Regions from separate parts of the Homo sapiens genome. Here regions 2 and 3 are each linked to region 1. The links come from fine-mapping of genetic effects on gene expression. A gene starts in region 1. Each other region holds a variant in brackets. All regions are shown on one strand. Distances are from middle to middle.

The links. PIP is the estimated chance that this variant, and not a neighbour inherited with it, causes the effect.
Region 2: its variant is the best candidate, but not a certain one, in a credible set for the expression of TMC2 in fibroblasts (GTEx, PIP 0.53).
Region 3: its variant is the best candidate, but not a certain one, in a credible set for the expression of TMC2 in neural progenitor cells (Aygun 2021, PIP 0.89).

What each region holds. Positions count from the first base shown.
Region 1 is chr20:2,534,166-2,539,385 of GRCh38, forward strand. It overlaps TMC2 (transmembrane channel like 2), which reads left to right and starts at 2,408. Exons shown (of 20, transcript NM_080751.3): 1 at 2,408-2,490; 2 at 3,104-3,151. The coding sequence starts at 2,457. LOC105372504 (a long non-coding RNA gene) reads right to left here. Exons shown (of 3, transcript XR_937204.3): 3 at 363-445.
Region 2 is chr20:2,657,597-2,662,816 of GRCh38, forward strand. It overlaps NOP56 (NOP56 ribonucleoprotein), which reads left to right. Exons shown (of 12, transcript NM_006392.4): 12 at 333-797. The coding sequence ends at 698. It overlaps IDH3B (isocitrate dehydrogenase (NAD(+)) 3 non-catalytic subunit beta), which reads right to left. Exons shown (of 12, transcript NM_006899.5): 5 at 3,313-3,373; 6 at 3,101-3,233; 7 at 2,861-2,994; 8 at 2,667-2,769; 9 at 2,434-2,580; 10 at 2,103-2,197; 11 at 1,929-1,989; 12 at 799-1,241. The coding sequence ends at 1,155. Among named protein-coding and RNA genes, the nearest start is that of SNORD57, 3.3 kb to the left of the region's middle. RefSeq lists a silencer at 754-954 and an enhancer at 4,897-5,220. The variant T/C (reference allele first, on the strand shown) is at 2,246.
Region 3 is chr20:2,613,752-2,618,971 of GRCh38, forward strand. It overlaps TMC2 (transmembrane channel like 2), which reads left to right. Exons shown (of 20, transcript NM_080751.3): 15 at 2,386-2,453; 16 at 3,321-3,560. It overlaps LOC105372505 (a long non-coding RNA gene), which reads right to left. Exons shown (of 5, transcript XR_007067502.1): 4 at 4,755-4,834; 5 at 295-381. Among named protein-coding and RNA genes, the nearest start is that of NOP56, 36 kb to the right of the region's middle. The variant C/T (reference allele first, on the strand shown) is at 2,097.

The DNA.
Region 1 (5,220 bases):
TGACCCCAGTGGGTGCTCATTTTTATCTGTGAGGAGAAAAGTGGAGTTATCGACTGTGTGGACAGTCAGGTACAAGGGAATTTGATAGTCCTATCTGGAGGGAATTTCTCTCCGGAGATGAAGGTGTTGTAGAAAGCCTTTCTCCTCTGGCAACAGAGAACAACAAGAGCAGGGTAAAGGCAGGAGGCGGAGCTTGCAGTGAGCCGAGATCGCGCCACTGCACTCCAGCCTGGGCGACAGAGCCAGACGCTGTCTCAAAAAAAAAAAAAAAAAAAAAAAAGAGCAGGGTAAAGGGCTGCTGGGGGTCCTCACTCATCAGGGGAGAGCGCTTGGGGCACCCCCAGCAGAAACCTTACTCACCAGTCCTCTGGGCCACGCTGTCCTGTGGCTGCACAGCTGCCCGTGCTGCTTCTCACATGGACCGGGGTCCTGCACTGGCATGGCCCTGGTGGGGAGAGGGATTTGCGGCTGCAGTCCTGCAGTATGGATGCCAGAGAATGCAACTGAGATCCTCCCACTGCCCTCATGCCCCGGGGACTGGGGCGGCCCTGCAGGAACCAGTTGGGTCGGAGATCAAGGTGTGGGACAAAGAGAAAAGCTTCAAAGCTTGAGATGAACCGTTGCACGTGCATTTTAGAGGTAGCTCCTTTGCCCCTTCCCTCGCCAAGCTTGCATGAGGACAGGCACTCCTACTCCTGACCCCTGAGAAAGTACATGGGCATGATCAGAGGCTAGGTCTGTCCTTGACACCCACAGGAGACTTGCCCTGGGGAAGGCTTTTTATTCTGTTGTGTCATAGAATCCTTTGGCATCCTGGTAAGGTCCGTAGACCCCTTTTTATATTTTTTTTTATTTTTGAGACAGAGTCTCACTCTATCACCCAGGGAGTGCAGTGGTGCAATCTCAGCTCACTGCAACCTCCACCTCCTGGGTCAAGCAATTCTGCCTCAGCCTCCTGAGTAGCTGGGACTACAGACACATCCCACCACGCCCGGCTAATTTTTGCATTTTTAGTAGAGATGGGGTTTCACCATGTTGGCCAGACTGGTCCGGAACTCCCAACCCTAGGTGATCCGTCTGCCTTGGCCTCCCAAAATTCTGGGATTACAGGCGTGAACCACCACGCCCAGCCACAGACCGCTTTTCAGAACATAGACATTAAATCCATAAAATAAAACACTAGGATTACAAAGGAGACCAATGATCCTGAAATAGGCATCAAAATCACTTTAAATATCTTTCATATAATGACAATATATGCTTCCTAATTAAATAACAAGATTTCATGGCAGGTCTCTAACTATCATAATTTTGAAGTTGTGATAACATGTAAGATATTTTGAGACATCCCCAGTGGTTTAATTGGGAAAAAAAATAACTGTGACTTTTGCTGAGACAAAAATCACATCTTTGCTTACATTCATGATTGAGGGAAATGCTAAATCGCAGTTAAGGCTAGGAAAAGTGAAAGTGTAGTATTTTCTCCATCACTATTCACAAACCCACAGAATTCCATCCACAGCTCTGGGGGTTCCAGGGACTCCAGATTAAGAACTCCACACTCTGAGACCTTATGACTGCCTTCCAGAGGGTCCCTCTGACACTTTAGTGATGGTTTTCAAAGCAGCCAAATCTGTGCCTCCCTGAAGCCAGGGAGGAAAAGCTGCTGAGGGAGGGGGCGGGGGCTGAGCGGGAACATTCATCTGTGTGGGCTCAGGACGCCTGCAGCAGGATCCACAGTGCAGGCTCCCAGGGCCTGGCACAGACTGACTGATTCCAACGCCCAGTGCCACTCCTGGGAGTATGCATTTTATTTTTAAAAATTTATTATTATTATTTTTCTTTTTGTGGAGATGGGGTCTCACTACGTTGCACAGGCTGGTCTTGAGCTCTTGGGCTCAAGCAATCCTCCTGCCTCTGCCTTCCTAAGTGCTGAGATTACAGGTGTGAACCACCACATGCCAGAATCTGCATTTTAAACAGAAGCCCAAGTAATAACTTAAACAAACATTCTAGAATTTCCCTGGTGCTTTGTCCCAATCAGGGACTCAAGATAGTGGGAGAGGGCCTGGGATGCTCCTCACACCTCCTCTGGCTAGAGTGCCAGCGGCATCATTGCCAGGAGATAAGCCTGCAGCTCCTGGCCCCTCCAGGGCCCCTCATGTATAACTGATGCCTGAAACATGAGGCCATGCTGCCTCTTTGCAGGGAAACCTGAGAAGAGGAGTGTGTGGCCGGATTGATGGGCCGGGAACTCGTCGCCTTCCTTCACCCGTCTCTCTCCCCCAAACTTCACCCACCTCCACATTCAATCTCAAACCAAGAAGCCCCGCCTGCTGTCAGGTCTAGGAAGGGAGGCCAGCCACCATGAGGGCAGGAAAGCAGCCCAGGCTGAAGGCGTGCATACAGGAGCACGCTGCGTGAGCCTGTGCAGGACCCCAGCAGTGCTGCTGACCATGAGCCACCAGGTAAAGGGCCTGAAAGAGGAAGGTGAGTCCACGTCCTGATCCTGCGGGGCCCGCCCACAGGGTTCCTGGGCAGCAGCAGGGGATGGGGGAAGCACATATGGTGTTCAGAGGCATAGGGAGGAGCTGGGTTTGAGTCCAGGGCCTGTCCCCTGTGCGCTGAGCGACCTCGGCTGGTTATTCAACCTCTCTGATCCTCACGCATGAGATGGGGGTAGTCATCACCTCCTTGCAGGGCTACTGGAAGGATTCAAGACAACCTGTGCACAGCACCTGTGTTCAGGCCAGCACTGGAGACTGTCACGGCCGATGCATGCTCCTCAGAGCCTGCTGGGGCGTCTCAGCCACCTATTGTCTCGGTTAGGGTTGCCTGTTCCGAGCAAGCCCCTCAGCAGATTTCTATCTGTCTCTGTCTCTGTGCAGGGCAGGGGGTGGGGGATGTTCTGACCTCATGACTGACAGTATCAGACAAATGTGACAGGCAGGGGACTCTATAATTTGCTGAGTAAAATCATTGGAGCTGGGTCCCAGTTTGAGGCAGCCACAAATCAGCTGAGGGGTCCCACAGTGACCGGGGGTCTGCAGGGAGGGGGACTCACCAGAGGCCAGCCATTTGTCAGCAATCCTGTCTCTTACAGCACGAGGCGGAGTGAAAGGGCGGGTGAAGAGCGGCTCTCCACACACAGGTGAGATGGGGTGGTGGGGTCTCTGGGGAGCCTGCAGTGCCTGGGTGCCCTCTGCTTAGCCCAACAGTCCAGCCACCCATCCAACATTCTCCTTCATCTCCTTCCCTCTCATTCAACACCCTGCATGGAGCCTTCCTGGGAGGCAAGGTGTTTAACATGGGAGGGGGCAGAGTACCACTCAGAGAAGGTGCTGCTCAGCCCTCGGTGTCAGGGGAGACTCCCAGGGTTAGTGACACTCTGAGCTGAGCCTTGGGAAGCAGTGAACATTCACCAGACAGAGGGCAGGGAAGCTCGGTGCAGGCTTCTGGCGGGTGGTGTGGCCAGATTCACATCCAGGCCCCCGGACTCTAGGAGGAACACTCTTAACCTCCAAAAAGTAGTAGGCATAATGGGTGCTCCATCACCTTCCCACTGGGAATGTGACCACAGCTCTCCCGTGAGCCGGTGAGGGAGCCAACTTGCTCCAGGAGAAGTGGGAGAGCCCAAGGAAGCCATAGGCGGGAGAGAAAACCCTTGGTTGAGACTGAGGGTTCAGGGGAGAGGGGCAGAAGCCACACTCACAGGCTGGGCATCTTCATGTCACAAAATATTATGGATGCGATGCTGTTTTCTCCCCCTTCACGTCCCAGGCAGGGCTGGGTCCTGCGCCCCACACTAGTAGGCAAGAAACCAGAATCTTGGGGAGTGATGGGGTTCTGGGGGGTTGGAAGAGATCTCCTTCCTCCCCCATTCTGGGAGGGAGGGCCCTTTCCACTCCCTCCTGTGGGAGGGCCCTGTCCTGGCCCCACTCTGGCCAGTAGGGAGCTGGCCCCAGGAGCCACTTCATCTGCCCTTTCCGCTCCTGTGACCCGCTGCTGTCTGGTTGTCGGGAGCCTGAGCTTCAGTGAGGCCGCTGTGTTACAAGGGGAGAGACCCAGGAGCAGGAGGCAAGGAAGAGCTGGGCAGAGGCTGGCAGGGGGTGCAGCCATGGCATCTCAACAGCCCTTCCTGGCCCCTATCCCGGAACTTGCCTCAGCCACTGTCCCTTCTTCCTACCCCACCTGCCTGCCTCATCCACTCTTTATCTCAATCCAAAGATGAAGGAGCAAATGTGAGAAAGTTCTATGCCCCAGGGTGGCCAGACGAGAAACCTTCCTCCCGGGGGTCGGGCCACGGTGCTCCCGTAGTGACCACTGCCTGTAGGATGCTCAGGCTGGTTCTCCACACCCCACTCCCCTCGTAGTCATCCAGATGCCGTCCCTTCCGCACCCAGCCTGGCCTCCCTCTGCCTCTGCTGCAGGGCTGTGCTGTGCGGGACTCCCCTGTGAGCAGTAGTCCTTAGTAGGACTGAAATGGAAGACCATTTTGCCTACAACACAAACCCTTTCCTACTGAAATATTCCACGTTGCCGCTGCCGTTTTCCCTTTCCCATAGAACACAGGAAATTGGTCAGAATTTTCACTTCACAGATCTAAGTGGTGAAGGGGTGCAGTAAAGTTAAACATTGGGAATATATTGAATTAACTGAAACCCAGCCCCATGAAGGTTTCCATTTTAAATCTCCTCTGGAGTCACCTGCGACGGGACCTGATATTCTCATCCTTCCCTTTATACTCTACCAGGAGGGAATAAAAGTTTAAGAATACAATGTTCTTTTCTCAGAATAGCTACAGTTTGTTACTGTGTTCCTTGAAAAGAAGGATGAGAACTCTCCCTCCTCCTGTATCATTTGGTAAGTGCACTGAACTGTTGAGATCACGGGACTGGAGGGCTGCCGCAGCCTCTCCTCGGCCTGTGTTTTGCACTGTGAATTCTCTGACCGAGTCAGGTGCTACATAGGAGGAGGCCTGTTACATTTAGGAGAGCGTGTGCTGGGCTTGGAGGCCTTCCTAGCAAGACAGCTGCCTTTCCAGTTCCTAAATTATGCATTATGTGGAGTCTGTTGAAAACTGATTATGAAAGAGAAAAAAACAGCTTATTTTCTGTGTTGAAGAGGTCTGGGGAAGATTGAAGGGCAAATTCTGGCTTGTTTTCCACATTCCATGTGAATTTCGTTCAGTTGGAGAACTAAATTACAGCAGGAATTACA
Region 2 (5,220 bases), 120 kb after region 1:
TTCTCCCTGAGATTTTCATTTAGCACCCAGTTTCTTAAACAGTGTTTCAGGGCCCTGTCTGGAACTTGGCATGATGGTTCTGTTGCGACCAGCATGGTGGGTGTTTTTTAGGTTTTTTTTTTTAATGGGCTGAGGTAATTTCTCATGACATGTTTTCCTTCTAATTTGGGACAGCCTTTGGGGTGGATTTCTAAAGTTATACCCACACAATTAAACTATCCCAGAAACACTGGGCAATGTTAACGACACGCGTTCCCCTGCCTTGGCTACTTAATTGCTGAAGATGTAATGAGCACTGTTCTCACAGCCTGTTCCCCTGTCCTTCCCTTTAGGAGATGAGTGAAAAACCCAAAAAGAAGAAAAAGCAAAAGCCCCAGGAGGTTCCTCAGGAGAATGGAATGGAAGACCCATCTATCTCTTTCTCCAAACCCAAGAAAAAGAAATCTTTTTCCAAGGAGGAGTTGATGAGTAGCGATCTTGAAGAGACCGCTGGCAGCACCAGTATTCCCAAGAGGAAGAAGTCTACACCCAAGGAGGAAACAGTTAATGACCCTGAGGAGGCAGGCCACAGAAGTGGCTCCAAGAAAAAGAGGAAATTCTCCAAAGAGGAGCCGGTCAGCAGTGGGCCTGAAGAGGCGGTTGGCAAGAGCAGCTCCAAGAAGAAGAAAAAGTTCCATAAAGCATCCCAGGAAGATTAGAATGCAAATGGACATTCTCTGGGAGGTGGGGCATACCATAGCCCAAGGTGACATTTCCCACCCTGTGCCGTGTTCCCCAATAAAAACAAATTCACAAGAGTTGGTTCATGTTCTTTATTGAACACCTTACATGGGTATGGACAGGGCCTATGGGTGGGGCAAGGCAGCAATGACAGCCTCAGTGAAGTCATGGCAAGTAGCATAGCCACCCATGTCAGAGGTTCGAACCTGTGGGGGAGAATCATCATCATCCATGTGGCCTGGGCTCCATCCTAACAATCCCCATCACCACCCAACAGTCTGTCCCCTAAGGAAGCCGGCCCAAGGACAACCTAGGCTCTACCCAGCAAGGTGACCATGGTCCACTGCTTAGAGGCACAAGGTCTCTTCCCTGGTACACTGCACTGAAGGGTATGGGGAGTGTGGTCCTTGCAAGGTTGGAAGAAATAAAGGGCTCTAGCTCCCTTTAGTCTGCAGGTGACCGATGACAGACTTGATGAAGTCGGTTGTGGTGCTGTAGCCGCCCATGTCTCGAGTCCGCACCTACAGCCACCACCGGCAACAGCCGTGGGGAGGGAGAAAAGAGAGCCCATGAAGGGAGGTAGGGCAATGTGATTGAGGAAATGGAAGCCAAGAATGCGTGACAGCCAGAAAAAAGGCAATGCACAGGAATGGAAGGAGGAGCCAGGATGGGAAGCACATGGACCTGCCACTCCTCTTAAGCCACTATTAGCTGTGCTGCAGCCAGGGCAGGACAGGAGGCTGAGCAGGCAAAGATGATGGGAAACGCAGATCAGAGGCAGGATGTGGCTACCTTCCTTGGAAGAAATAGAGACAAGACCAGGTGGAAGGAAAGAATCACAGCGAAAAGGAGATGGGGCGTGAAGGTGAAGCTGATGCTTCAGCCTGCCTGTATCCCTTGCTGTTCCACCCCCAAGGAGAGCTGCAAGTTCTGCATTCAGATGGCCCATGAAAAGGGCAGTGGATGGAGCAGGAAAGAGGGAACAGCAGATGGGATCTAAGAGGCAAAAGAGATCAAGAGGATGAAACAGCCAAGAGAAGGGAGATGAAGAACAGCCCTGAGAGGGATGCAGGGATGTCAGGGAGCAGATGTTCTGGGGACCTGGGGGGAAAGGAGACCCCCATTCAGGTTCCCCAGAGGGTAGTGCCGAGGTGCTGACACCAGAACTACTCTAAATCCTGAAGCCAGCACTACTCTTCTCAACTCACCTTGCCAACTTTGATCACCTTCTTCACCGCATCTGCGATCATGCTGGAGTGATACTCAAGACTGTGGATATGGACAGGAAGAAACTGTGACTCCCCCAAGACACCTCCCGCTAATTTCCCCACCTGCTCCTCCTCACGACACCCAACCTCTGCCGACAGCCTCCCATGACCTACTTAAGATGCCGCAGCATGTTGGAAGCCGACAGCAGCATGGCCGTGGGATTGGCTATATTCCTGCCCACTGCCTGGGCAAATGGGTGCCGGGCACCCTGTGGAGAGAGGGGCAGGCTAGACACTGGGAGGAGGCAGGAGGGGTA[T/C]GCAGAGGCTTAGGTTGGAAAAGGACATTATGGGAGGGGGAGCTCAGGCCAGGGTCACTGAAAAGAGGCATGGTGGGCAGCGTGGGGGAAGAACAGGCCAAGATCACTTAGGAAGTGGAGATATTGGGATGGGAGAGGAATGGCGGACTTGAGGTCAGAGGAAGGGCCGAGGGAGAAAGCAGCCTCACCGTCTCAAAGACTGCGTATTCTGCACTATAGCTCTCACCAGGGACCACACCAGCTCCCCCAACCAGGCCAGCAGCCAGATTGTCAATAATGTTCCCATAGAGATTGGGCATCACAAGCACATCAAACTGGTAAGGATTCTGCACCAGCTAGAGGGTGAGATGCAGGCATGAAGTAAATTCCACTCCCCACCCTCCTCCTCCGCCCCATGAGTAGAGATGTGGGGAGGCCTCACCTGCATGCAGCAGTTGTCTATGATCATTGTCTCAAATTTGATTTTGGGGTACAGTTCAGCAACTTCCTCACAGCACTGCAGGAACAACCCATCCCCAAGTTTCCTGTCCATGGGCCAAAGGGGACAGAATCAGCCAAGAAAGTACAGGGGCTACCTTCCCAGGAACCCATCCTACACAAAGCCATGCCCCTCACATGATGTTGGCCTTGTGGACAGCAGTGACCTTGCCCCGCCCCTTCTTGGTGGCATAGTCAAAGGCGAACTTTGCAATCCGCTGAGACTTGGCTCGTGTGACAATCTTCAAACACTCAATCACACCCCTTGCACTCTGGGTAAGAAGAAAGCAGCAGCTAGGTGACACTGGGAAGGGAAACAAGGAGCTCCACCTCTCTCCCATCTTCATCCTTGCCCTCCCCCAGTTTCTGGGGCCTCACCTCATGTTCCAGAGAGCTGTACTCCCCTTCTGTCTGCTCTCGAATGATCACCAGGTCTAGATTGTTGTGCCGAGTCATATACCCAGGAAGTGACTTCACATGGACTACGTTGGCAAATAAGTCCAACTTACGCCTGAGGGTGGGCAGGGCCATCAGCTCTGCTCCTGGTGCCCTGGCACCTCTCAACCATTCACCCCACCCAGACCACCTACCTCAGCCGCATATCATAGGAGGCTAGCTCCCCCTTATACTCCATCGGGGTATGAATCTTTCCTGTGAAAACAAAGTGGGAAAAGGAGTGTCAGCCACAGGCCAAGCCCAAGGGAACTCAGACCAGTGTCTAACCCCCTTAGGAACATCATGTAACCCAGACTCCCATCTCCCATTCCCACATCAGTAAACTTTTAAATTGTCTCTGGGGGCAAGGGACAAAAGAGAATAATGTAGTTAAAGCCAGAAACATTTCATCTATTGCATTTTCTGTGTGTGTGTGTGTGTGTGTGTGTGCGTGTGTGAGAGACACAGGGTCTCACTCTGTCGCCCAGGCTGGAGTGCAGTGGCACGACCTGGGCTCACTGCAACCTCTGCCTCCCAGGTTCAAGCAATTCTCCTGCCTCAGCCTCCCCAGTAGCTGGGATTACAGGCATGTGCCACCACACCTGGCTAATTTTTTGTATTTTTAGTAGAGGCAGTGTCTCACCATGTTGGCCAGGCTGGTCTCAAACTCCTGACCTCAAGTGATCCACCCGCCCCGGCCTTAATGCTTTATTTTTAGTCAACATATTTAATTTATGTTGAAACTTCAAAACGGAGAACAGATTTTTTCTATTTATCAAAAAAGAGCCTGGGTTTAACAACAAGTTGAAAAACAATGCTAGCAGATCTGTGATCTTTTTATCTGTGCCTTCTCCTTATTTGACATTTTTTAACCCAACACCTACTGATGAATATCAATTATATGTCAGGCAATAAGGATAACAACTAAAACCATACAACTCCTGCCCTTGAGAAGCAAACGGTACACTGGGAAAGACAGAAAATATGAAAGACATGATAAGTACCATGGGAAACTTGCATAGCAACACAAAGAGGAAATCCTCTCCAGTAATATCAGGATACAGCACAGAAGAGCTGGCACTTCAGCCATGCCTTGAGCCCCAGAACCTATGTATGTGACCTTATTTGGGAAAAGAGGCTTTGCAGATGTAATTAAGTTAAGGATCTTGAGAAAAAATCGTCCCATCCAGGGCTAAATATTTGAGGAGAAAAATGATACCGAGACAGAGAGGGAAGAAAACCACAGATATTGGAGTGATGCATCTACAAGTCAAAAAACAGCAAGAGCCACCAGAAGAGGCAAGAAAGGTTTCTCCCCTAAACCTTCAGAGGGAGCAGGGCCCTGCCAACACCTTAATTTCAGACTGATGGCCTCCAGCACTGTGAGAGAATACATTTCTGTTAATGATAAGCCACCAGGTTCATGGTAGTGTGTTACGGCAGCTATGGGAAACTAATACAGTGAATGAGTGAGAAGGACTCTAACAGGTAGCACCAAAGAAAGAACGTTCTGGGTGGAGGGAACAATATAAGTCAGGTAGTACATATTTGGAATCTAACACACAATCTAGTGTGATTGAAGCACAGAACAAGAGTTGTGGAACCAAGGCAGAAAATTAAGGGCCAACTTATAAAGTACTGACTTTCCTATGGTAAGGCTGGGCCTGGAAAATCAGGCTGTTCTTTCCAAGAAGAGATATGGAAGATGAACTATAGGGGCAGAACTAGAAGCCAAAAAAATCAAATGAGGAGATTAAAGCGCGGAAGACAAAAGAAAAGGGGCAGCTAGGCACGGTGGCTCACGCCTATAATCGCAGCAGTTTGGGATGCAGAGGTGGGTGGATCACTTGAGGTCAAGAGTTCGAGACCAGCCTGGCCAACATGGTAAAACCCTCTCTCTACTAAAAATACAAAAATTAGCCTGGGCATGGTGGCTCACACTTGTAATCCCAGCACTGTGGGAGGCCAAGGCGGGCAGATCACAAGGTCAGGAGTTCGAGACCAGCCTGACCAACATGGTGAAACCCCATCTCTACTAAAAATACAAAAATTAGCCAGGCATG
Region 3 (5,220 bases), 80 kb after region 1:
GAGAAACCTCCTTTGACTTGTATTCCCTTATAGCCCTCTTCCCCACCTACCTGGTAAATGTGTGTCATTTCCTCTCTGTAGTGTCCTTCTATGCTCTGGCAGAATCTCTGGCTCAGGCACCTGTGCTGTACATGTCTCTTCCACAACACCTCACTGGCCCAGCCTGCAGTCACTGGTGTGCATGTAAGGTACCTACCTCTTACCTGAGCTCCTGGTGAAAGGCTCCGTAGGATGTTGACCTATGTATCCCTCATCCTGGCCTGGCCCAGGTAAGGGCCCCAGTACAGGTTTCTGTCACATTTTTTTTCGTTCAGTCACCAGTCTCAGTTTTAAACAAGTCTGCTGAGCTCCTCGGCAGCCAGGAAAGCTTCATAATCTTGTCTGAGAACGAAGATGAAAGAACTTTGTGCTCAAAGAGGATGACATCTTTGATAGAAAGACACAATATTACTAAGAGGTCATTGTTCTTAAATTTGTTTGTAAGATCACCACGATTTCCAAATAATACTAAAGTTCATTTGAAAAATAAGCATGTGAGAATATCCAGAAAAAATATTTAAAAAGAAGAATAAGGCCAGGTATGGTGGCTCACACCTGTAATCCTAGCACTTTGGGAGGCCAAATTAGGAGAATTGCTTGAGTCCAGGAGTTCAAGATCAGCCTGGGCAATTTAGCAAGACCCCATCTCTACAAAAAATAAAAAATTAGCTGGGTGTGCTGGTGCATGCCTGTAATCCCAGCTACTCAGGAGGCTAAGGCAGGAGGATCCCTTGATCCCTTGATCACACCACTGCATTCCTGCCTAGGCGACATAGTGAGGCCCTGTCTCAAAAAGTATATAAAGAAAAAATAAAAAGATGAATAAAAGGAACTAGACTTACCATAATACTAAAACATATGATAAAGCTATAATAACTAAAACTGGTACTAGAAAATAGACCAACATGTCAATGGAACAGAATAGAAAGTCCAGAAATAGATACTATCTACATGGGCCTTTAGTTTATGATAAAGGGAGACTTTCAAACACACTGGGGGGAAAGGATTATATTAAAATATATATAAATTATATAAAAATGTGGGGGATTATATCCCTCATTCATTTCATCTAGATTAATTTTAGGCACATCAAAGTCTTAAACATCAAAAAAATGAAAATATAAATTTCTAAAAGAAAGCATGTACAAACTTAGAATCTTGGAGTGAGGAAGATTTGTCTAAGTAGGACATGAAACCCAGTAGATATGTGTTTTTTTTAACATTTTAAAATATTAAAATTTAAATTCTGGGTGGGGGTGCGGTGGCTCACATTGTAGTCCCAGCACTTTGGGAGGCTGAGGTGGGTGGATCACTTGAGGTCAGGAATTCAAGACCATCCTGGCCAGCATGGTGAAACTCCATCTCTACTAAAAATACAAGAATTAGCTGGGCATGGTGCTGCACACCTGTAATCCCAGCTACTTGGGAGGCTGAGGCAGGAGAATCACTTGAACCAGGAGGCAGAGGTTGCAGTGAGCTGAGATTGTGCCACTGCACTCCAGCCTGGGCAACAGAGCGAGACTCCGTCTCAATAAATAAACATCCAAGACTTCACCCCGTGGACTTAATGTATGCATGTTTCCTTCTTCCATCCATGCATGCTGGCCCTTCCTTTGTCTCTTTCCTAACTTCTCATCTCTCCTTCTTGTGTTCTCATTTCCCTTTATCTCCATTTCTGGAAGACAAATTGGGATGTGGGCTTTAGCATGCTTCATGAGGACCCTCATATCCTCAGTGCTCACAGATTTTATGTTCTTTCAAATATTCGGACAAATCACGAAAACTGCAAATGAGGTAGGCTGAAAATATGAACCAAGCTGGGTGCTTTCCTTTCCGTGAACTGCTCTCAGACTGGAGGAAGAAGAGAAGGAGAAAGAAGAGTTGGAAGGATGATTTGGTTTTTGTTTGTTTTTAAGCTTTCTTTTCTTTTGACTCCTCATTTAATTATTTGCATTTCATTATTTATTAGATTTCTCCTTGATTATAATTTCAGGGTATGTTTCTGATTAAAACGTTGATAAAATGTTCTGTTAGAGGCGAGGGTCTTCCCAAGAACA[C/T]GCTGTCAGCCTGCAAGGCCTGAAAGATAGAAACTGTCATTTTTTTGTTTACTGAAATAGGCATTTTTAAAGTTTCAGCTTTGAGAATGTCAAATTTTTTGTTTAAAAGTTGAAAACATATTAAAGAAATAGAATGCTAAATCTAAGGTTCTTCTCTAGTTACCAGAGCAGGCTCTTTGGGATGGAATGGCCTTGGCTTGGCCAGTTGGTTGGTAGTAGGGTTTGGCTGAATTCACCAAACGTGCTTTTTTTTTTCTCTCTCTCTCTCGCTCCCTCCCTCCCTCTCTAGCCTTCATATGCTGAGTTTGATATTAGTGGAAATGTGCTGGGTTTGATCTTCAACCAAGGAATGATCTGGTGAGTTATCCATTTCATCTGGTGATCGCCTCATCCAAGGAGTCAAAAAACTGGAATCCCAGACTTTGCAACTTAACTAGTTGGAAGAGGCTAGATAAGTCCTCTTGCCTCTCTGAACTCCCCTCTTTCACATGAAAAATCAAGAGCGGGACTAGATGAGAAGCAGGACAGTTTCTGGCCCACCCATGTGCTACCATAGAAGTAGAGAGAAAGGGAGAGGGGTTGGTGGAGGAGAAAAGGAAAAGGAAGGAAGGCAGGAGAGAAGGAGAAGAGGGAAGAAAAAGGGAAGAAGGAAGAAAGACAAAGGAAAGGGAAAAGGAAGGAGTAAAGAAGAGGAGGAAAAGAGGAGGAAAGGAAAATAAAGAAGGAGGGAGGGAGAAAAGAAGGAAGAGAAGGTGGAAGGTAAATGAACTATGGAACTCCCTCTTCTGAAAAGGGAGTTCAAGGAGGTACATAACTTCAGCCAAAGACTTTCAAGGTGCCAAGGGCTCGCTGCAAGCCACTGTCCAATTCTCTCAATTGAAGGACTTCAAATACTCTTCTGAGCAGCAATGCTGTTTTATGGAAACCGAGGAGAAACAGGCAGGAGACCGTATAATTTGCTAGATGCCTGGGGGCGAGTCAGTGGTAAAATCTTGGCCAGAGCTTAAGCCAGGAATGCTCGGAGTGCCTCCCTCTCCTGAGGACTGCATGGTTCTGGCTTGATGATCGATATTCTGGTTAAATGGGAGGCCCCTTACCTGGGGACTTGCCAGGAAAGCAGCTCGGCCTCATGCCCCTAACCCATCCGTCCCATTTCCTTCTATCACCCTTCCCTCGCCTTCCCTGCTGTCCAGCCAACCAGGTGTTTGGTTTCTGCCATTCCAGGATGGGCTCCTTCTATGCTCCAGGCCTGGTGGGCATTAATGTGCTGCGCCTGCTGACCTCCATGTACTTCCAGTGCTGGGCGGTGATGAGCAGCAACGTACCCCATGAACGCGTGTTCAAAGCCTCCCGATCCAACAACTTCTACATGGGCCTCCTGCTGCTGGTGCTCTTCCTCAGCCTCCTGCCGGTGGCCTACACCATCATGTCCCTCCCACCCTCCTTTGACTGCGGGCCGTTCAGGTGCAGAGTCTCAGTTGCCCGGGAGCACCTCCCCTCCCGAGGCAGTCTGCTCAGAGGGCCTCGGCCCAGAATTCCAGTTCTGGTTTCATGCCAGCCTGTAAAAGGCCATGGAACTTTGGGTGAATCACCGATGCCATTTAAGAGGGTTTTCTGCCAGGATGGAAATGTTAGGTCGTTCTGTGTCTGCGCTGTTCATTTCAGTAGCCACCAGCCACCTGTGGCCGTTGAGTGCTTGAAATGAGGAACTGAGAAAATTAATTTCTCATGTATTTTTCTCATTTATTTATTAATTTTTAACTGATAGTTGTACATATTTGGGGGTACATGTGATATTTGGATACATGTATACAATATATAATGATCAAATCAGGGTAACTGGGATATCCATCACATCAAACATTTATTTTTTATTCTTTTTAGACAGAGTCTCACTCTGTCACCCAGGCTGGAGTGCAGTGGTGCCATCTCAGCTTACTGCAACCTCTGCCTGCCAGGTTCAAGCGATTCTCATGCCTCCACCTCCCAAGTAGCTGGGACTACAGGCATGCACCACAATGCCCAACTAATTTTTGTATTTTTAGTAGAGACGGGGTTTTGCCATGTTGCCCAGGCTGGCCTTGAACTCCTGGCCTCAAACAATCCACTTGCCTCGGCCTCCCAAAGTGTTATGATTACAGGCGTGAGCCACCGTGCCTGGCCTAAACATTTATCTTTTCTTTGTGTTGGGAACTTTGAAATTATACAATGAATTATTGTTAACTGTCATCTCCCTGCTGTGCTATGGAACACTGGGACTTCTTCCCTCTATCTAACTGTATATTTGTACCAGTTAACCAACCGTACTTCATCCCCACTCCTCTCTATCCTTCCCAACCTCTGATCACCTCATTCTACTCTCTACCTCCATGAGATCCACTTTTTTAGCTCCCACATGTGAGTAAGAAAATGCAATATTTGTCTTTCTGTGCCTGGCTTATTTCACTTAACATAATGACTTCCTGTTCCATCCATGTTGCTGCAAATGACAGGATTTCGTTCTTAATTTCAATTAAAATAACCACACATGGCTAATGGCTACCATATTCGACAGCACAGTTCTACCCTTTTAACACATGGATAACTTACTACCTGGGATTACTTTACCATAGGATAAGTAATGGTGGATATTCTGAGGATGAATTACCATACACTTACACGTGCCGTTTAAATGTGAAGCAGCTGCAGTGGACTCTTGACAGACCTCAACTGAGCTCTCTGCTCTCCAGAGCATTGGCCTGGGGGTTCAATACATAAGTCAAGCTAGTTGGGAGACTAGATATTGTATAAAAAGACAAATAATTATGTAAGGAGGTAGATCAAGAGATAATGTGCATCTACTGTTCTCTTTCCAAATGCCTGACCTTCTGAAAACAAAGCCCTCTGCCAACTCCGTAAAGAGAGGTTCTGTGGTTAAAGCAGTTTAGGACGTACTGCCCCTTCTGTCTGCCATTATCTCACTTAGAAATGCTCAATGCACACTCCTTTGTTAAAGGCTCTGAAGAATCATGCAATGAGGTAACACCTGTAAGCTAGTGTCTCCGTCCTTATTGACCACAGAACCCTTTCTGCATGGATCACTCATCCAGGGCTGGAAATAGGGTGAGGCAGGTGAGTGACGCCC